Regions from separate parts of the Homo sapiens genome. Here region 2 is linked to region 1. Evidence: fine-mapped expression QTL. A gene starts in region 1. The other region holds a variant in brackets. All regions are shown on one strand. Distances are between the middles of the regions.

The links. PIP is the estimated chance that this variant, and not a neighbour inherited with it, causes the effect.
Region 2: its variant is fine-mapped to the expression of SNRPG in nucleus accumbens (GTEx, PIP 0.95).

Annotation. Positions count from the first base shown.
Region 1 is chr2:70,289,611-70,300,761 of GRCh38, reverse strand. It overlaps SNRPG (small nuclear ribonucleoprotein polypeptide G), which reads left to right and starts at 7,022. Exons shown (of 4, transcript NM_003096.4): 1 at 7,022-7,144. The coding sequence starts at 7,113. FAM136A (family with sequence similarity 136 member A) reads left to right here. Exons shown (of 3, transcript NM_001329752.2): 3 at 3,285-4,786. The coding sequence ends at 3,473. LOC124906023 (a long non-coding RNA gene) reads right to left here and starts at 6,860. Exons shown (of 2, transcript XR_007086880.1): 1 at 6,830-6,860; 2 at 4,748-5,704. RefSeq lists enhancers at 1-359, 6,861-7,340, 7,357-8,264.
Region 2 is chr2:70,257,254-70,268,404 of GRCh38, reverse strand. It overlaps PCYOX1 (prenylcysteine oxidase 1), which reads right to left and starts at 10,268. Exons shown (of 6, transcript NM_016297.4): 1 at 10,129-10,268; 2 at 8,839-9,045; 3 at 7,019-7,193. The coding sequence starts at 10,240. RefSeq lists silencers at 9,903-10,012, 10,283-10,412. The variant G/A (reference allele first, on the strand shown) is at 7,067.

The DNA of each region.
Region 1 (11,151 bases):
CTTGGCTTTAGTGTCTTGGTTCTGTTAACAGTTGTGATACTGATGGCCAACCAGTTTTCACAGGGTTTGAAATTTTGGAAAAAGTCTTGGCGGTCGAGTGCCTTAAGTTGAACATCATTTCCTATAGAAATGATGTAGGCCGAGCGCGGAGGCTCATGCCTGTAATCCCAGCACTTTAGGAGGCTGAGGCAGGTGGATCATGAGAGCAGGAGATCAAGACCATCCTGGCCAACATGGTGAAACCCCGTCTCTACTAAAATACAAAAAATTAGCCAGGCGTGGTGGCACGCACCTGTAGTCCCAGATACTAGGGAGGCTGAGGCAGGGGAATCTCTTGAACCCAGGAGGTGTAGTTGCAGTGAGCCAAGATCGCGCCACTGCACTTCAGCCTGGCAACAGAGCGAGACTCTGTCTCAAAAAAAAAGAAATGATGTAATGGGGAGTTACCAGGGGAGTTCATGACCAAGAGCCCTTATGCAGTTTGTTGGGGAGGAGGCGTTTGTTTGTTCCTTTTGACATAACCACCAAATACAGAATGTATACTGTGTAGTATAAAGTTTCCTGGCTGGACGCGTAGCTCGCGCCTGTAATCCCAACATTTTGGGAGGCCGAGGCGGGTGGATCACGAGGTCAGGAGTTTGAGACCGTCCTGGCCAACATGGTGAAACCCCATCTCTACTAAAAATACAGAAATTATCTGGGCATGGTGGCAGGTGCCTGTAATCCCAGCTACTCGGGAGGCTGAGGCAGGAGAATCGCTTGAAACTGGAAGGCGCAGGTTGCAGTGAGCCAAGATCGCATGCCATTGCGCTCCAGCCTGGACAACAAGAGCGAAACTCCGTCTCAAAAAAAAATAAATAATGTTCAGGCACGGTGGCTCACACCTGTAATCCCAGCACTTTGGGAGGCCGAGGCAGGCAGATCACGAGGTCAGGAGATCCAGACCATCCTGGCTAACACAGTGAAACCCCGTCTCTACTAAAAATACAAAAAATTGGCCAGGTGTGGTGGTGGGCGCCTGTAGTCCCAGCTACTCGGGAAGCTGAGGCAGGAGAATGGCGTGAATCCGGGAGGCAGAGCTTGCAGTGAGCCAAGATCACGTCACTGCACTCCAGCCTGGGTGACAGAGCGAGACTCCGTCTCAAAAAATAAATAAAATAAAAATAAAAAAATAAAGTTTCCTAAAACATATATTATTTTTAAAACAGCAGAATCTCTAGAAAGGTAGGATAGCCTTGAAAAGGTACAGATTCGAGGAACACCCTTCCACCATTTTGTGGACTTATACACCCACCCAGGACTGCCCCTAGTTGCTATACCCAGAGGGCAGCCCCTCTGTCACTAAGGAGCAGTCATTTATGTGAATCATTATTACTGTTGACTCACTGATTCCTGGCTCACAAGCCCCTCTGAGGTTACCAAAAGAGCTCCCTGTTTCCCTCTCTGGAGCAAAGAGTATCCACAACTTCATTTTACTCCCATCTTCTAAGTATATTTTTCTGGAACCTGGGGGAAGCAAGCCTACTTCCAAGCCAGCCTTTCATAGCCTGAGGTTCCATCCACATGGAAACTTATACATAATGTGACACATCTTTACATTCTTCCATTCAAAACGCTTCAAAGTTACTGCCATTATGAAGGAATAACTTCTTCAAGATCATGGAACCCCAAAGGGTTTCTTTGTGTTCTTTTTGACAGCTAATTTTATAGATGGGGTCTTTGAAAATGTGATTCTTGGATTGCTCTATAACTTCCCTTGCATTATCTTTTTAGTCCTCTCCAAGTGGACTTTCACTCTTCACTGGGCCAGAACCACTCCTGCCACTCACCCCCATGGGGCCGAATCCGGGGGTCATTTCTCAGTCTTCATCTTACTCTGTCTGCATCATTGACACAGTGGATCCCTCTCCTTCTTAAAGCACTTTATTCAGTTGGTCACCAGGACATCTCACTCTCCTGGTTTTCTGCCTCCTTCCTTGGCCTCCTTTGCTCTCTCTTCCCCACTCCAGCCTCTGAGCATCAGAGTGCCTGGGGCTGTCCTTGTTTCTTTTCTCCTTTCTGCCTACTTCTCTAGTCTCCTCTAGCCTCATAGCTGTAAATATAATCTCTATGCTGACAGCTCCTGCATTTATATCTGTAGGCCAGAGCTCACTGATAAACTCCACATTCACATATCCAACTAATTCCTCCACATCTCCATTTACTTTGTTTGTCTCTTTCCTCTCACTGGAATGTAAGTTCTGTAAGGGTAAGAACTTTGTTTTACTCATTGCTATATTCCCTAACATTAAAAGAGTGCCTGGCACATAGTAGATGCTCAATAAATATTTGTTGAATTGAATGTTTTCCTGTAGAAAGAACAGACTTTAAAGAATCAGTGGCTCACACCTATAATCCCAGCACTTTGGGAGGCTGACGCGGGTGGATCACCTGAGGTTGGGAGTTTGAGACCAGCCTGACCAACATGGAGAAACCCCGTCTCTACTAAAAATACAAAAAAAGTTAGCCAGGCATGGTGGCGCATGCCTGTAATCCTAGCTACTCAGGAGGCTGAGGCAGGAGAATCACTTGAACCCGGGAGGTGGAGGTTGTGGTGAGCCGAGATTGTGCCATTGCACTCCAGCTTAGGCAACAAGAGCGAAACTCCGTCTCAAAAAAAAAAAAAGAATCAAGATGTTTGTACATCTTACAATAACCTCTAGGGACCTCTCATTTCCTGGAAGAATGTTCTGCCCAATTTATTCTGTCATTCACCTGCTTTCTAGTAATAGTTTGAGCCCTCCTGGTGCCATCTTCTGTTTGAGTCAAGACAGTCTTGGAAAGCCAAACACAGTGGCTCACACCTCTAATCCCAACACTTTGGGAAGCCAAGGAGGGAGGATCACTTGAGCCCAGGAGTTCAAGACCAGCCTGGGCAACATAGGGAGATCCCATCTCTACAAAAATAATTTTTAAGAAAGTATTAGCCAAGAGTGGTGGCGTGTGCCTGTGGTCCTAGCTACTTGAGAGCAGAGGTGGAAAGATAGCGTGAGCCTGGGACGTTGAGGCTGCAGTAAGCCATAATTGTGCCACTGCAGCGCAGCGCTCCAGCCTGGGCAACAGAGTGAGACTCTGCTCAAAAAAAAAAAAAAAAAAAAAAACTTGGCCAATCACACTACCATGTCCCTTTAATTGACCAAGATAATACATATTAAACCTGTAGCACAGGGCCTAACACATAATGAGCACGCAGTAAATGGAGGCCTTACTCTCAGCTTTTTCTACGTTCTTCCTTCTTGCCACAGGACCGCCTGGCCCGGTGCACCATGCATTGCAACGACAAAGCCAAAGATTCAATAGATGCTGGGAGTAAGGAGCTTCAGGTGAAGCAGCAGCTGGACAGTTGTGTGACCAAGTGTGTGGATGACCACATGCACCTCATCCCAACTATGACCAAGAAGATGAAGGAGGCTCTCTTATCAATTGGAAAATAAAAGTATTTGCCAGTGGCCATCAGGGCTGAGGGCAAGAATATATTTTTTATAAGGAATTGGGAATTTTAGTCTTTTAAGCAAAGTTTACGAATGAAGAAATGAAGGATGGCCACAAGCGTAAGGCATATGTCACTTGCCTCTGGACACTGGTTATTTTATGTTTCAGTCCCTAAAAAATGAAATGGAAAAAAGTGGTGCTAAATCGAGTCAGAGATATTACAGGAGAGTTTTAGAGCTTATTATTTCCTGTGGCCAGTGCTTGTCCTGGCAGTAAGGCTTTCCCCTGTAACAAGCCAGAGCCCTCCAAGGTACCAGACTCTTCTTACTACACAGGTACTAACAGGCTGGCAGGTTAGAGTTGGTGGAGTCTGAGGAGAGATATTTTCTCTTTGTTGCCAACATCCTGTTTACCAAAAGTGTCACCCCACCATCTTCCATAAGCTGTGAAACAAAATCAATGAGGTCACTAACTTAGAAGGGAAAGAAAGTTTTCTGGGTCTTTGTTTTCTTGATTTGGGGTAATTTATACAAGGGCATACAAGTTGATTTTAAGATGTGGAACTGGGAGGTAGACTAGTTTGGATAAGAACTTTGAAATGTTCCTTGTGGATCCCCATTTCTGGTCATCAAGATGTGGATGTACATTTCTTAAAATTATTACATGCTGCATCTTTCAGCCTGGAGACTGTGCAGAAACATGAGAGGTGATGACACACTAATTATGGGAAGCAGAATTACTGGCTGATGGCCCCTGAGGCTGTGTGTAACAAAATGACAGGACAATCTTGCAGTAACACTTTCCCCTTGAAGAGAAGGGGGTTTTGATTGTGATATATACTAGTATCTAGGAATGAACAGTAAAAGAGGAGCAGTTGGCTACTTGATTACAACAGAGTAAATGAAGTACTGGATTTGGGAAAACCTGGTTTTATTAGAACATATGGAATGAAAGCCTACACCTAGCATTGCCTACTTAGCCCCCTGAATTAACAGAGCCCAATTGAGACAAACCCCTGGCAACAGGAAATTCAAGGGAGAAAAAGTAAGCAACTTGGGCTAGGATGAGCTGACTCCCTTAGAGCAAAGGAGAGACAGCCCCCATTACCAAATACCATTTTTGCCTGGGGCTTGTGCAGCTGGCAGTGTTCCTGCCCCAGCATGGCACCTTATTGTTTTGATAGCAACTTCGTTGAATTTTCACCAACTTATTACTTGAAATTATAATATAGCCTGTCCGTTTGCTGTTTCCAGGCTGTGATATATTTTCCTAGTGGTTTGACTTTAAAAATAAATAAGGTTTAATTTTCTCCCCACTATTGAGTCTTCTTTCCTTATATCTGGGTGGTGAATATGTAACTTTCTCAGGATGCTTCTCCTTTTAACAGGTTAAATGAGTTAAAATGTCCAGAAGAGTGGAAATTAGTTGTTATGGTTCAGATGCAGAACTGGTTCACTGTAAATGGGAAAAACTTTGAGAGGAGACTAGGACATTGTGACTTGAAGTTCATTAATGTAGAAAAGAAACTGTCTATGAGGCTAAAAAGAGAAATTCATTATCTATGTCAGGTCTCTAGCTTCAACTAAACACTAATAGCAAGTGGTAGTAAAGGTACAAAGCTATGACCCTGCTAGAAAAAATTCAGTGTCTAGGATTTTGAGTACTAAGAGAGTGCAAAATATGTGATGAGTTTAAGTCTTTACTATCATTGATATTTATATAGAGCCATTCCAGAATATCAGGAATTAACTGAATTTTTGAGAACTATCCCCTATTTAAACACAAGGTATTCTATTTTGGTTTAGTCTTCTATAATTTTGGGGTAACAACTGGGAACAAGTCCGAGACCACTTTTTACACATCTTGACATGAAAAAAGAACACCTTATATTAGAAAATGTTTGTGTGCTGCACTTCACATTTTATATACAGGGGCAATAGCACATCAGTGAGTTCTGGAGGTAGTGTTTGAAAAATTTCAGAATTCCCAGGCATGCTGGCTAACCCCTGTAATCTCAGCACTTTGGGAGCCGGAGGCAGGCAGATCTCTTGAGGCCAGGAATTTGAGAACAGCCTGGGCAACAAAGCAAGACCTCGTCTCTACAAAAAAAAATTAGCTGGGTGCAGTGGCGTGCGCCTGTAGTCTCAACAACTCAGGAGGCTGAGGTGGAAGGATTGCTTGAGGCCAGGAGTTCGAGGTTGCAGTGAGCCATGATCACACCATGCTCCCCAGCCTAGGCGACAGAGCAAGAACTCATCTCAAAAAAAATTTTTTTTGCAAGACCCCTCAGTCAGAAATAGATTCAAATTCTTGGAGACAGACCCAGTCACCTTACTCTACAATGGTTCAGAGGCTGCTAATTTACATGTTACGGGAACCCTACTTGGTCTGACAGTATGCTGTAGGGTTACCTGCCAAAAAAATATAGAGGCCCAGCCGGGAGCGGGGGCTCACGCCTGTAATCCCAGCACTTTGGGAGGCCGAGGCCAGCGGATCACGAGGTCAGGAGATCAAGACCATCCTGGCTAACACAGTGAAATACGGTGTCTACTAAAAATACAAAAAATCAGCCCGGCGTGGTGGCGGGCACCTGTTGTCCCAGCTACTCGGGAGGCTGAGGCAGGAGAATGGCGTGAACCCGGGAGGCAGAGCTTGCAGTGAGCCGAGATCGCGCCACTGCACTCCAGCCTGGGCGACAGAGCAAGACTCCGTCTCAAAAAAATATACATATATAGAGAGAGGCCCATTCCTCCAGGGATCATTATCATTTGGTATATTGGTATATATGAAGAAAATAAGCGATACGATCCACAGACATGCGGGATTGGCCGGGTTTGCCCAGGAGCTAGAGACGGGACCGTTATCTCAATATCTCAATTTTATTTTTTAAATAGAGAAGGGGTCTCGCTATGTTGCACAGGCTGGTCTCGAACTCCTGGGCTCAAGAGATCCAAAGTTCTGGGATTTACGGCGCCCGGCTTTTTTTATTTATTTATTTATTTTTATTTATTTTGGCTGTTCCATAGACAAGAGCAGGGATAACCGGCTGGGCGCGGTAGCTCACGCCTGTAATCCTAGCACTTTGGGAGGCCGAGGCGGGCGGATAACGAGGTCAGGAGATCGAGACCATCCTGGCTAACACGGCGAAACCCCGTCTCTACTAAAAAATACACAAAATTAGCCGGGCATGGTGGCGGGCGCCTGTAGTCCCAGCTATTCGGGTGGCTGAGGCAGGAGAATGGCGTGAGGCCGGGAGGCGGAGCTTGCAGTGAGCCGAGATCGCGCCACTGCACTCCAGCCTGGGCGACAGAGCTAGACTCCGTCTCAAAAAGAAAAGAAAAAGAGCAGGGATACCCACCGGTGGAATACCCGTTATCTCAATTTTGTACAAGGAAAACGGAATTCAGAAAGGTGCCTAGAGGACGCACCCCTCCGTCCTGGCCAATCGCTGAGGACATAACCGGAAGCTCAACGATGACCGAGGCGCTGAGATATCGCGAGGTGAAATGTAAAAACTGCCAACAATCCATTGGCTAACGAGGTCGATGACGCCAGACGCAAGACGCCGGGCCTACAGCGGGAGCGTGAGGAAAGCCGTGCGTTGCGTTCCAAGGCATCTGTGAGCCCGCGGAGTATACACCATGAGCAAAGCTCACCCTCCCGAGTTGAAAAAGTAAGTATGTGTGAGAGCCAAACCGAAGTGGTCAGTTATTTGCGTCCTGCGAGTCCCTTGGTTCCCTCTCCGTTAGCCGAATGTCTTGAGCCGCTTCACTTCATTTCTTCTTCCGGTCCGAGGTCGCCGGGATCCCGGCCAGGCTCCCGCGCATGAGACGTGAAGCCCGCGCAGAGCTCGCGCGTCGGTGTGGTTACAGCCGGCAGCCACGGCACCTCCTTCCGGCCGACTAGTCTCCAGGTCCCGCGGTCTGGCCCCTGGTCACCCGGCGCTGTCCCTCGTTCCTTGAAGATCTCCAGTGCTACCTTTTGTTGAACATCTCGAATAGTATCATGTTCTAGATAGACGGCTAGAGGGGGAAATTCTCTGAAGGAACTAAGGAGGGGCTGGAAGGGAAGGAAGTGTTTTTAAAACTACGTGAGGCATCAGAATCCGAAAGCCACTTTAGTCTTAGCAAATGTGTTTGTAGGTGTTTGAGCTTTTACTTAGAAACCTCATTCCTTTTTCTTGCCTTCTTTTACGTTAAGCTTGAATGTCATGTGTTATCTTGCTCTGATGTTGAAACTATATAAGAACATTCATTTTTCTTTTTTTTTAAGAACATTAATTTTTTCTAGTCAGAGAAGGCTAATTTTTTGAAGTTTTTTCTACACACCCAGTAAAGTCAAACAACTTTAAGTAGGAGAGCCTTACTTTAGGTAGGACTCAACGTAAAGCTTTGAATTCCTCAAATACTTTTTGAGTGGACTTAACAGGTTATGTGTTTCCTGACTACGTTTCTGTTTTGCTTATACTTCCTGATGCTGGAATTCTACATGTATTAGTTGGATTGCACAAAGGATGCAAAATTTTTACAGGGATCAGTTTTTTCTGGCGTAGCATGTGGTTGGCTTTGTGTATAGTTAGTTCATTTATTACCAGGCCCATGGAAGTCAGACAAAAGGTAAAGTTCCTATTTAATAATTTTGCGGCCGGGCACAGTGGCTCACGCCTGTAATCCCAGCACTTTGGGAGGCTGAGGCGGGAGGATCACCTGAGGTCAGGAGTTCGAGACCAGCCTGGCCAACATGGTGAAACCCCCGTCTCTACTAAAAATACAAAAAATTAGCCAGGCAGGTGGTGTGCGCCTGTAGTCTCAGCTATTCCGGAGGTTGAGGCAGGAGAATCGCTTGAACCCGGGAAGCGGAGGTTGCAGTGAGTCAAGATCGCGCCATTGCCCTCCAGCCTGGGTAACAAGACCGAAACTCTGTTTCAAAAAATAATAATATTTTTGCATTTAAAGGTCCATTTGTATCAAAGCCATCTTTTGTATGAAAACTACTTCTATGTATATTTTAGTTAGGTCTGTTAAGGAATTAATTATTAAAACATAAGCCCAACGCGGTGGCTCACGCCTGTAATCCCAGCACTTTGGGAGGCCGAGGCGGGCGGATCACGAGGTCAGGAGATGGAGATCATCATGGCTAAAACGGTGAAACCCCGTGTCTATAAAAATACAAAAAATTACGTGGGCTTGGTGGCGGGCGCTTGTAGTCCCAGCTACTCGGGAGGCTGAGGCAGGAGAATGGCGTGAACCCGGGAGGCGGAGCTTGCAGTGAGCCGAGATCGCGCCACTGCACTCCAGCCTGGGCAACAGAGCGAGACTCCGTCTCAAAAAAAAAAAAAAAAATAGAAGTTACTCAGAAATTATTGTGAAAATTACTCTTTTTATCTGAAAGTTATTTTTGGTGATGTAAGTATCCTCTGGATTCATCAGGGACTGGTGAAATGGTGATTTTTTTTTTTTTAACAAAAAGACCATTCTCTACTTGTAATCTAAGATTTTCTTTCTGATTCATAACATAGTTTTTGAAAATTTCAGAGAAGGAAGCTAGTTTTAATACCTTTCTCTTCCTCGTAGGTTTCATGAATTGTGAAATCCGGTCAGATCTGCCGCCAAAATGACTTAAAAATTTTTTCTTCCTCTGCTTTCTCACAGATAGCATCTTCTTTTACACCATTATGCCCTCCTTCTGGTGTAGCATAACTCAGGTGTTCTTAAATGGGGAGTAGGGAATCTGGTGCTACCGGCTTCTAGTGAGTAGACACCAGGGTGCTGCTAAACATCCTACTGCTTATTCGACTGCCCCCAACAATACAAAATTAACTGGTCCCAAATGTCAGTAGTATAGAAGTTGAGATACACTGGCTTAACTGAATTCTTCCTTCCACTTCTTAAAATTTGCTGCCACGGTAGTCTTGCCAGTGACTGCTTTAATAATTTATCACAGTATGCAAAATCGAGTCTGTACTTAACCCAGCATTCAAGCACCAAACCTTCTAGCTGCTAATACTCAGGTATTCCGTTCTCCAGTCACACTGAACTATTTGTGTTTGCTCTCACTTGCTGTGTGACTTTGAAAAATTGCTTTAGCTTTTCCAAGCCTAGTTCTCCATCTGTAAAAACGGTGGAAATGATAGACCATAATTGCAAAGTCGTTGTAAAGATTGTATAAGATCTTGTGTGTTATATTTGATACGTTTTATGTATCTTATTAAAATATAGTTTACTTCATATATGTGTGTGTGTGTGTGTGTGTGTGTGTGTGTGTGTGTGTGTGTGTTTTGAGATGGAGTTTCACTCTTATTGCCCAGGCTGGAGTGCAGTGGCGCGATCTTGGCTCACCGCAACCTGTGCCTCCCGGGTTCAAGCGATTCTCCTGCCTCAGCCTCCCGAGTAGCTGGGATTACAAGCATGCACCAACACACCCGACTAATTTTTTTTTTTTTTTTTTTTTTTTTTTTTTTTTTTTTTAGTAGAGACGGGTTTTCTCCATGTTGATCAGGCTGGTCTCGAACTCCCGACCTCAGGTGATCCGCCCGCCTTGGCCTCCCAAAGTGCTGGGATTACAAGCATGAGCCACCGCGCCCAGCCCATAAATATATTTTTACTTGTAAATGTATCTACTCCCTCCTTCAGTCATGCTCCTTGTTTTATATTTACATTTTCCCATGATAATCCTATACATTAAAATTGAATAAGTGCCCCACTTCGTGGCCCATATACTAAACATCTTTTTTTCATTTTTTTATATTTTAAAATTTGAATGAAATTTTTAAAATTGAATGAAATTTTATGTTTTCTGGCCTATATGGAAGAAATTAAAAACTGATTTGACTGCATGGCTTAATCTCGTATTCCACTAAAATGGAATTTTTTTTTAATTCATATCGTTTGAAGTTTCAAATGTGCATTTATTATTCTAAAATATACTTAAATGTTGAGGACTACCCTGAACATTTATGCTTGATGCTTTAATATTAAATAAAAGAACACTACTTATTTCAAATATAAAATACCTATTGAATTGGATATGATTTGATTACTGTTTGCTGTCTTTACAACTTAGTTTTGGAAATAACCAAACATAGGCAAGTCTTTGTTTTTCTCTTGTGACTATAAAATCCAGTCATTGAAAATTAGGTCAATGAGACCAGATGTGGTAGCTCATGCCTGTGTAATCCCAGCGGCACTTTGGGAGGCTGAGGGGGAGTATATTTTTCGAGGCCAGGAATTCAGGACCAGCCTGGGCAACATAATGAGACTCCCATCTCTTAAAAAAAAAAAAAAAAAGAAAGAAATTTAGGTCAATGAAACAACGTAGTATTGAACAATAAGAATGTAATTCACATTAGTATACTCTACTTAATGTAAATTAATATAGTCTAAATATGTTTCATTTTTATTGCCTTTCCTCTTCCCAAATTACTTTGCTTCCTAGAATGTCTAATTTAGGTAACCCTTTACGCCCCCACTCTTTTTTTCCCCTGAGACAGTTTCGCTCTATTGCCCAAGCTGGAGTGCAGTGGCGCAATCATGGCTCACTGCAGCCTCAACGTGGCAGGCTCCAGTGATTCTCCGACCTCAGCCTCCCAAGTAGCTGGAACCATAGGCATGTGCCACCACCCCCAGCTAATTTTTGTATTTTTGGTAGAGATGGGGTTTCACCATGTTGCCCAGGCTGGTC
Region 2 (11,151 bases), 32 kb after region 1:
TGGGGAAAACAAATTTAAAAGTAAGGGATGAGAGCACAGAATCCTGTCATGTCTTCTCAGTCACAAAACAGATTTTGGCTATAAATCTCTATTAATGAAATAGCCACTGAAGGTTTCTGAGTTAGTGGAGTGATGTGATGAGCCTTAGATTTTAAAGAACTACTTTGGCTGCTAACCTGAGAACAAATGGTAGCAATATAACAGTAATGGCAGATGATTTAGGAGGTGTCTTGGTTTTCCACTGCTGCTATAACAAATTACCACAAACTTAGTGGCTTAAAACAACACAAATTTACGGCCGGGTGCAGTGGCTCACACCTGTAATCCCAGCACTTTGGGAGGCTGAGGCGGGTGGATCACGAGGTCAGGAGTGCAAGACCTGCCTGGCCAAGATGGTGAAACCCCATCTCTACTAAAAATACAAAAATTAGCCGGGCATGGTGGTGGGCGCCTGTGATCCCAACTACTCGGGAGGCTGAGGCAGAGAACTGCTTGAACCCAGGAGGCGGAGGCTGCAGTGAGCCAAGATTGTGCCACTGCACTCCAGCCTGGGTGACAGAGCAAGACTCTGTCTCAAAACAAAAAACAGCTCTCCCTCTCCCCCTCCCCCTCCCCCTCTCCCTCTCCACGGTCTCCCTCTGATGCCGAGCCAAGGCTGGACTGTACTGCTGCCATCTCGACTCACTGCAACCTCCCTGCCTGATTCTCCTGCTTCAGCCTGCCAAGTGCCTGGGATTGCAGGCGCGCGCCGCCACGCCTGACTGGTTTTCGTATTTTTTGGTGGAGACGGGGTTTCACCGTGTTGGCCGGGCTGGTCTCCAGTTCCTGACCATGAGTGATCTGCCAGCCTCGGCCTCCCGAGGTGCCAGGATTGCAGACGGAGTGTCGCTCACTCAGTGCTCAATGTTGCCCAGGCTGGAGTGCAGTGGCGTGATCTCGGCTCGCTACAACCTCCACCTCCCAGCCGCCTGCCTTGACCTCCCAAAAGTGCTGAGATTGCAGCCTCTGCCCAGCCGCCACCCCGTCTAGGAAGTGAGGAGTGTCTTTGCCTGGCCGCCCATCGTCTGGGATGTGAGGAACTCCTCTGCCCGGCCGCCCAGTCTGGGAAGTGAGGAGCGCCTCTTCCCGGCCGTCATCCCGTCTAGGAAGTGAGGAGCGTCTCTGCCCGGCTGCCCATCGTCTGGGATGTGGGGAGCGCCTCTGCCCCGCCGCCCCGTCTGAGATGTGAAGAGCGCCTCTGCCCGGCCGCGACGCCGTCTGGGAACTGAGGAGTGTCTCTGCCCCGCCGCCATCCCGTCTGGGAGGTGAGGAGCCTCTCTGACCAGCCGCCCTCTCTGAGAAGTGAGGAGCCCCTCCGCCCAGCAGCCGCCCTGTCTGGGAAGTGAGGAGCCCCTCTGCCCAGCCGCCACCCCGTCTGGGAGGTGTACCCAATAGCTCATTGAGAACGGGCCATGATGACGATGGCAGTTTTGTCGAATAGAAGTGGGGGAAATGTGGGGAAAGGAAGGAGAGATCGGATTGTTACTGTGTCTGTGTAGAAAGAGGTGGACATAGGAGACTCCATTTTGTTCTGTAGTAAGAGAAATTCTTCTGCCTTGGAATGCTGTTTATCTATGACCTTACCCCCAACCCCATGCTCTCTGAAACATGTGCTGTGTCCACTAAGGGTTAAATGGATTAAGGGCGGTGCAAGATGTGCTTTGTTAAACAGATGCTTGAAGGCAGCATACTCGTTAAGAGTCATCACCACTCCCTAATCTCAAGTACCCAGGGACACAAACACTGCGGAAGGCGGCAGGGCCCTCTGCCTAGGAAAACCAGAGACCTTTGTTCACATGTTTATCCGCTGACCTTCCCTCCACTATTGTCCTATGACCCTGCCAAATCCCCCTCTCCGAAGAACACCCAAGAATGATTAATAAATACTAACAAAAAAAAAAAAAGTTATAATCTTACGGTTCTGTAAATTAGAAGACCAAAGTCAGTCTCTCCGGGCTAAAATCAAGGTGTGCACAAGGCTGGTTCCTTCTAGAAGCTCTGAGGGAAGACTGTCTTTTCCAGCCTCTACAGGCCACCTGCATTCCTTGGCTCGTGGACGCACACCCCTTCCTAGCATCACTCCAATCTCTTCCTTCCATCATCACATCTCCTACTACCTACCCTGATCCTCCTGCCTCTCTAAGGACCCTTGTGATTATATTGGGCCCACCTAGATAATCCAGAATAATCTACCCATCCTTAACCATATCTGCAACGTCTCTTTTACCTCAAAAGGTAACACATTCACAGGTTCCAGGAATTAAGACATGGACATCTTGTGGCAGACAGCAGGGGAGAGGATTATTCAGCCTATAATAGGAGGCTACTCTAGCAATCCAGACAAGAGACAGTGGTGGTGACTTGGAACAAAGTGGTAGCAGTAATCCTGGAGAGAAGTAGTGGAATACTGGATGTATTTTAAAGGCTGATGGGATTCAAGATAGAGTGGGTTTGGGAAATGAAAGAACAAAAATTGACTCAAAATATTTGGTAGGAGTAACTGGAAGGAAGAAAGGGTGTTTATAAAGCCTTTCCCTGTGAGTCTATCAGTCTCAGATCAAGAAGTGTTAAGGATCTTACAAGTCCCCAGAAATGCACTAACTTGAGAGAGAAGAATAAGCTTTAACCTAGTCTACAAGCCAAGATATCTCAACAGGAAGCCATCAGCAGACCAGAGATTTAAATTCCACAAACATCTGAGTAAACATCTACTACATTCTAGTTACTGTGCGTAGCATAGAACACAAGCACACAGTGTGCACCGTATAATAAGGGATGTTTGAAAAGAAAGATGAATGTTGATTGAAGCATTAAGGAAATGCTTTGCTGAAAAAGTGAGATAAGAGGTTGGACTTGGGAGTAAAGAATGGCATCCGGCTGAGCGCGGTGGCTCACGCCTGTAATCCCAACACTTTGGGAGGCCAAGGTGGGAGGATCACTTGAGCCCAGGAGTTCAAGATCAGCTTGGGCAACATGGCAACACCCTGTCTCTACAAAAATTTAAAAAATTAGCCAAGCATGATGGCACATGCCTATAGTCCCAGCTGAGGCTGGAAGATGACTTGAGACCAGGAGGTCAAAGCTGCAGTGAGCTGTGATTGCACCACCGTACTCCAGCCTGGGTGACGGAGCAAGACTTGGTCTCAAAAAAAAAAAAAAAAAAAAAATTAGTTAAGAATGGCATCCAACCAGAACAACTACATAAATGTATGTGCAGAAGTGGAAATTAAGCTAGCTAGTGCTGATGTCAGGGGCTGCAGGATTTCCACTCAAGTACCTCCAACAGCAGAGAATGAATGAATGCACTGTTTTCGAGTATTGCCTACCACAAGCTTGAGCCCTCTTTCGAGTGTCATGGTTTACTACTGTTACATAGGTCTTTCTCCACCTTGTGTATACTTTGATCTTGGCTCACCACAACCTCCGCTTCCTGGGTTCAAGCGATTCTACTGCCTCAGCCTCCCAAGTAGCTGGCATTAGCTGCGCCTCCACACCCAGCTAATTTTTGTATTTTTAGCAAGGCGGAGTTTCACCATGTTGGCCAGGCTGGTCTCGAACTCCTGACCTCAAGATCTATCTGCCTTGGCCTCCCAAAGTGCTGGGATTACAGGCGTGTGCCACCGCGCCCGGCCCGTAAATTATTTTTTAAAGTCAAAAACAGTATAACCTATGTATCCCCTCACTGGTTCTTTTTCCCAGTTCTGTAATACCTTGAATTCACTTCAAAAGTGATTTCTTAGGCCAGGTGCGGTGGCTCATGCCTGTAATCGCAGCACTTTAGGAGGCCAAGGCGGGCAGATCAATTAAGGCCAGGAGTTTGAGACCAGCCTAGCCAACATGGTAAAACCCCATCTCTACTAAAAATAAAAAAATTATCTGGGTATGGTGGCACATGCCTGTAATCCCAGCTACTCAGGAGGCTGAGGCAGGAGAATCGCTTGGACTCAGGAGGCAGAGGTTGCAGTGAGCCGAGATTGCACCACTGCACTCCAGCCTGGGTGACAGAGTGAAACTCATCTCAAAAAAAAAAAAGTAATTTCTTAATTTCTCAAAGGGCAATTCTCTACATCTCAAGCAAGCCACAGATAAAAAAAAAAACAAGGCTGGGAACAGGAGCTCACAACCGTAATCCCAACACTTTGGGAGGCCCAGGTGAGTGGAACACTCGAGCCCAGGAATTCAAGACCAGCCTGGGCAACATGGCCAAACCTCATCTCTACAAAAAAAATACAAAAAATTAGCCAGATCTGATGGCACGTGCCTGTAGTCCCAGCTACACAGAGGCTAAGGTAGGCAGATCCCCTGAGCCCAGGAGGTCCAGGCTGCAGTGAGCCATGATCACACCACTGCACTCCAGCCTGGGTGACAGAGTGAGACCTGTATCAAAAAAAAAAAAAAAAAAAAGAGGGCCGGGCACAGTGGCTCACGCCTATAATCCCAACACTTTGGGAAGCCGAGACAGGCAGATCACAAGGTCAGGAGTTTGAGACCAGCCTGGCTAACACGGTGAAACCACATCTCTACTAAAAATACAAAAAATTAACCAGGCATGGTGGCATGTGCCTGTAGTCCCAGCTACTCAGGAGGCTGAGGCAGGAGAATCACTTGAACCTGGGAGGCAGATGTTGCAGTAAGCCGAGATCCCGCCACTGCACTCCAGCCTGGGCGACAAAACGAGACTCTATCTCAAAAAAAAAAAAGAAAAGAAAAGAAAAACAATACACACAAGCAGGGCTGATGCCATCAGAACTTGATCTGCCTGCTGAGTATGCAGCACCATGCCACCCACCTTCTATAAAGTGACTGGCCGTCTCTACGCAAATTCTATATATTTCCTTGGTTGTGTATTGCCTGTCTCTCCACTAGAATATATATTCTTTGAGGACAAGGACATGTTGTAGGTCCTATACTCTCAACATAGAACAATGCCTAGCACCTAACAGGTATTCAATATTGGGTGAATGAATGAATGGCTACTTAAAAACATTATGCACTGTAGATGGACTTAAGGTACCCACGGGAAAGGCATTTAAGGAACTGACCTAAGAATGATGTTGAGAAAGAAAGAAACCCCAAACTACCATGAGTTATAGAAACCAGAGCATATCCTGCTTAGCTTTCTTTTTTTTTTTTTTAGACAGTCTGGCTCTGTCCCCCAGGCTAGAGTGTAATGGCACGATCGTGGCTCACTGCAACCTCTGCCTCCCAGGTTCAAGTGATTCTCCTGCCTCAGGCTCACAAGTAGCTGGGATTACAGGCATGCACCACCACGCCGGCTAAATTTTTATATTTTTTGTAGAGACAGGGTTTTACCATGTTGGTCAGGCTGGTCTCAAACTCCTGACCTCAGGTGATCCACCAGCCTCAGCCTCCCAAAATTCTGGGATTAGAGGCATAAGCCACTGTGCCCAGCCCTGCTTAACTCATATTTGTCCTGTTCAATACCTGGTCATATGACATGTTTTGTTTTGTTTTGTTTTTCCCCTCAAGATGGAATCTTGTTCTGTCACCCAGGCTGGAGTGTAATGATGCGATCCTGGCCTCCAGTACCTAAAACTGTAAAGCAGCATAAAAATTAGCATGTGCTAGCCGGGCACAGTGGCTCATGCCTGCAATCCCAACACTTTGGGAGGCTGAGGCAGGCGGATCACGAGGTCAGGAGATCAAGACCATCCTGGCTAACACAGTGAAACCCCGTCTCTACTAAAAATACAAAAAATTAGCCAGGCACAGTGGCAGGCACCTGTAATCCCAGCTATTCGGGAGTCTGAGGCAGGAGAATCGCTTGAACCAGGGAGGCAGAGGTTGCAGTGAGCCGAGATGGTGCCACTGCACTCCAGCCCGGGCGACAGAGCAAAACTCCATCTCAAAAAAAAAAAAAAAAAAAATTAGCACATGCCGGCCAAGCTCGGTAGCTCACACCTGTAATCCCAGCACTTTGGGAGGCCGAGGCAGGTGGATCACCTGAGGTCAGGAGTTCGAGACCAGCCTGGCCAAGAGGGTGAAACCCCATCTCTACTAAAAATACAAAAATTAGCTGGGCGTGGTGGCAGGCATCTGTAATCCCAGCTACTCGGGAGCCTGAGGCAGGAGTATCGCTTGAACCCAAGAGGCAGAGGTTGCAGTGAGCCAATATCGAACCATTGCACTCCAGCCTAGGCAACAAGCGAAACTCCATCTCAAAAACAAAAAAACAAAAAAACTAAAAAACTAGAACATGCCAACAGCTTTAAAAATACAGATTGTACCTTTCAAAATTAGACTGGCTATTTTATGTTAGTCTTCCTGATTACCAAAGTGATACATATTCACACGCATTAAAAAAACTGTTTAAATATAGAAAAGCATAAGGACGAAAAAGAGGCACCTGAATTCTCACTACCCAAAACAGTGCTAGAATGTAAATTCTTGGAATATGGAACTTTTACTCTACTTCAGGCTGCTGGTTCACTGAAAACATGTCACTATTAAAGGCCATTTAAGTTTTCTGATCCTTTCTACAAGCTCTTGTACACATTATCTCAATTCATATACACAACACCAGCACAGCATAGAGATTAAGAGTGAAGACTCAAAGGCCAGACTGCCTGGGTGGCAACTCCAGCTATACCACTTACTATGTGGGTGAACTTGCCTTTTAAAACCTCTCTACACCGCCACCTTCTGCATCTGTTTAAAGAAGCTAAAAACAGTACCTACCAGAGTAAGTTGTCATAAGAATTCAAGGCATCTAACAGTATCTGGCAACACTAAAGAAGCATTTGCAAAATACACTTCAGAAGCAAAAATAAACCAACCTTTCAATATCCAAGCAAATAGTCTGCATAGTTTCTACAAAACATTTTGCCTAACAATGTTATAAACAGGCCTTGCTGTGAGGTAGAAAATGCTTACAAGAAATCATAATTCCTAAAGTTCATCAAGTTTAATTTAACCTAAATTAAAAGATCTTAGGTTAAATGGAAGGAAAAAAAATTACCTCATGAACTTGTCTAACACGTCCTCTACCCACATGTGCATACGGAGG[G/A]ATTGAAATCCATAGCGCCAAACTAATTTAATCACGTTAATTATGAACCAGTTGCTCTCCTCAAATACCAGAGTCTCTCCATTATATATCCCCAGTAGGCCACCAGAGGCCTGAACAGCAGAGAGACCTGCAAAAACATAAAGCACAGCTAAGTCAGTGGTGTCTATGCTGATCAAATGAAAGAACGTAATCTGAGTGAATTTGGGGCTTCCCTCAGTTCTCAGGAGACACATAAAGGAGCTCTATCTTTGGAACAGTGTGAAACACTATACTTTCACTACACTGTCCAAAAGCAGATTTGCTAGGCGATGGGTCAGATGATCATGTAAATATTAATATATCAAAAGTAGATATATTTTTACCTGGCTATTTTTAGACTAAAAGTCTAAAAAAACTGGATAGTCAAAGGAAAAAAGCCAGAGTACCAACTGAATTCAATTTAAAAACAAAGATGTCAGACATGCATCTTCGTGGCATAATTTGTTCTGGGTATACCTTCGCCCTCGTGGAGGAAACGGAAGCAGAGGCAGCATCTACAGAGGATGTGGAAGGCAGCTGAGGCACTTCCATTCCTGTGAGAATCCTATTTTGCAAAACTGGATATTTCAGATAACTGGAAGGAGGCCAAAGTTACAAAATACTCCCTGCCGAAAGGGCCTCCAGAGGCCTGTCAGACTTTCCCCATGACCTATCCAGCTCCTCTGCTGTCAGGGCAGCAGTTGCACATCCCAAGTTCTAGGCACGTGTCTGCATCCACAGCTGTGTGACGGAGTTTGTTTTGTTGGTGGTGGTTTGTTTTGATAGGGTCTCACTTTGTTGCCCAGGCTGGAGTGCAGTGGCATGCAAGGCTCACTGCAGCTTCTATCTCCCAGGCTCAAGGGATCCTCCTGCCTCTGCCTCCCAAGAAGCTGGGACTACAGGTTTGTGCCATCACACCAGGCTAACTTTTTTATTTTTAGTAAAGACAGGATCTCACTATGTTGCCCAGACTGGTTTCTAACTCCTGGGCTCAAGTGATCCTCTGCCTCGGCCTCCCAAAGTGCTGGGATTACAGGCATGAGCCACTGACCCTGGCCATGGCCATATGTGAGTGACTTTGAGCCAGACAATTCAAGTCTCTGGGTCTCATTTACTCAGCTGCAAAATGATCACAATGAGATGACTATCTCCAAACCTTCTCTGATTCTTTAACACAAACCCAGAATTTTAAGAACAGACAACAGAGGCCGGGCACGGTGGCTCACCCCTGTAATCCCAGCACTTTGGAAGGCCAAGGCAGGCGGATCACCTGAGGTCAGGAGTTCAAGACCAGCTGGCCAACATGGTGAAACCCCGTCACTACTGAAAATACAAAAATTAGCTGGGCGTGGTGGCAGGCACCTGTAATCCCAGCTACTCAGGAGGCTAAGGCAGGAGAATCGCTTGAACCCGGGAGGCAGAGGTTGCAGTGAGCCAAGATCGCACCATTGCACTCCAGCCTGAGCGACAAGAGCGAAACTCCTCAAAAGAAAAAAAAAGACAATGGCAGCCATTCCCACCCCCACCCCATGGCTGTAATTCCAGATAACTGAAGATACAGACAACTAGTGTCCCATTACAGCAGAACTGCTCCTAACTCAGGCAGTACCAACTAACAAGAAAGTGAGGAAAACAGTTTTACCAACGTCTCTGTAAGGCAATTAACAAGGCAGAAATTTCAGTTCTCCATCTGATAAAAATATCCGGGGATGTCACACAGTAATCTGGTGAGCTCCAAGACCAAAATTACATACCCAGGTCTTTGACAAAACGTTTCATGTGCAGATTTAAAGGATGGATGACAGAACCTCCTGCCTCGTATTCTTGCCCCTGCACCATCATGGTAGCCAGGCGGCCCCCGACCTCTTCTCTTTCAAACAGGTCTATCTTCACATCTTTCCCAAATTTCTGCCGCAGGTAATAGGCTGCTGAAGTGCCACCAATTCCGGCTCCAATAATCGCTATGAGGGAAAAAAACAGAAGATTATATTTTCCCCTTTTACCAGCTCTGTGAGTTGTTTTGTTTTTGAAAGACCATCAATAGCAGAGGTTGTTACTCAAAGCTATTACCAACAATTTGGTGGGGGAAGAGTGACACCTGCAGCGAAGGTCTAACTCCCTGAATCTGGACAGACACTGTTCCCAGACAAAAGCAGTAGATTAATTAACATATTGACATTAACTCGATTTTTTTTCCAGATGCCCAAAGATTCTCACAGGTCTTTATGGAGGAACCAAGGGGCCTGCACACCCTTCCAGATGCCCAACTCACGGGCACATTAGAGGTGGACCTTTCCAGCACGCATTTTTAATAAAGTGACGGCCATTTATGCCTAGCTTTGTTGTGTCTAGATTCAATGTAGATAGGTTAATGATACCGAAGAACACAACTTTAAAGGGGGGCGGGAGGGAGACAGGAAGCAAAGAGCCAAGGCTCCTGACACTGGAGCTCTTGACAGTGGAAAGAGAACAGATTCTTTCTGCAGCTGTGTTAGTCCTAGGCGGAGAAACTGTGCAAGCCAAGGGCCTCTGAGAGCAGGCCGACCTCAGCAAAGCGGAGCTGGGGGAAGGCGGTTCAGCCTCCCAAGGGAAGCAGGCAGGGTCAACTTGTTTGCACTCCTCCCTGTGCTGTGCCTGCGTGAGCCTGTTAATCTGGCCGGGCGCCCCAGGTCAAGCCAGAACACTGGAGTCTTCACGGTCAGTGTTCAACGGGAAGATAGAGAAACCTAGGCCTCCCCGGAGCCCCACACCTAAGAGACAGGGGCTACAGGTACGCTAGGCGCCTGCCTGCCCGCCCGCCCCTGTCCCCGTCCACGCCCATTCCTCAAGTGGGCACCTCTCCACGCCTGGGAATGCACAGTCCTATTCCGACCAGAGCTGAAAGCCGCCCTGAAGTGTGAATGGGGGAAAGCGCGACCTGCGCAGCTGGCTCGGCCTGCACCGCTGGACTGCGTCGCGGCTGTGGGATCTGGGCGCACTGCGCAGCGGCCGCCCGGCGCGGGGCGCGCTCCAGCACCTTCCCGCGCCGCCCCCTTCTCGCCTACCGATTTTATCTGGCGGAGCACGCAGCTCGGCGCCCTCGGGGCATCCGCAGCTGCACAGCAACAGCCACAACCCCAGCAGCGAGGAGACGAGCTCCGCGACGACGCGCCCCATGGCCTCCACAAGCTCTGCAGCTGGCCTCAAGAGCCCCGCAGTCCTCCCACCGCTGCGCGGCTGCGCGCTCCGCCCAGCCCCGCCCCCAGGCCGCCCAGCCCCTGCGAGCCCCGCCCAGGTCCTGCGAGCCCCGCCCCGACCTCGCCCCGCCGGTCCTCTCAACCCTGCAGGAGCTCCCCACTCTGGGCCACTCAGTGCCCTAAGCACATCCTGCCGCCTCGAAGCCCACCCTCCTTCAGAAGACATCGAAGGCAGAAGCTGGCCGGGCGCGGTGGCTCAAGCCTGTAATCCCAGCACTTTGGGAGGCCGAGGTGGGTGGATCATGAGGTCAGGAGATCGAGACCATCCTGGCTAACACGGTGAAACCCCGTCTCTACTAAAAATACAAAAATTTAGCTCGGCATAGTGGCGGGCGCCTGTAGTCCCAGCTACTCGGGAGGCTGAGGCAGGAGAATGGCGTGAACCCGGGAGGCGGAGCTTGCAGTGAGCCGAGATTGCGCCACTGCACTCCAGCCTGGGAGACAGAGCCAGACTCCGTCTCAAAAAAAAAAAAAAAAAAAAAAAGGCAGAAGCTGAGGCTCGCCTCAGCTCTCCTCCTCCTTCCCTATCTATTTGGGTGAAGCACCTTAGTTCTTCACTAGTACCCTCTTCTGTTCCCTCCGTCGCTCCTCTCAAAGAATGCGCACAGCTAATCGCTGCCAGAAACAGACCAAAGGGACAACAGTACTTACTGAGTGATCACCCTGTTGCGAGAACTGTAAGGTTCTCCGTGAATGGGTAAATGGTGCTAACTGTAAAGAAAAATGAGGGAGACTGAGGATGGGGTGGCCCAAGGTGAAGGGGGTGTAATAGTAGTAACAGACATGAATAAAAGTAGTGTACCTGTAAGGACACCAGAATGTGCCACCCCA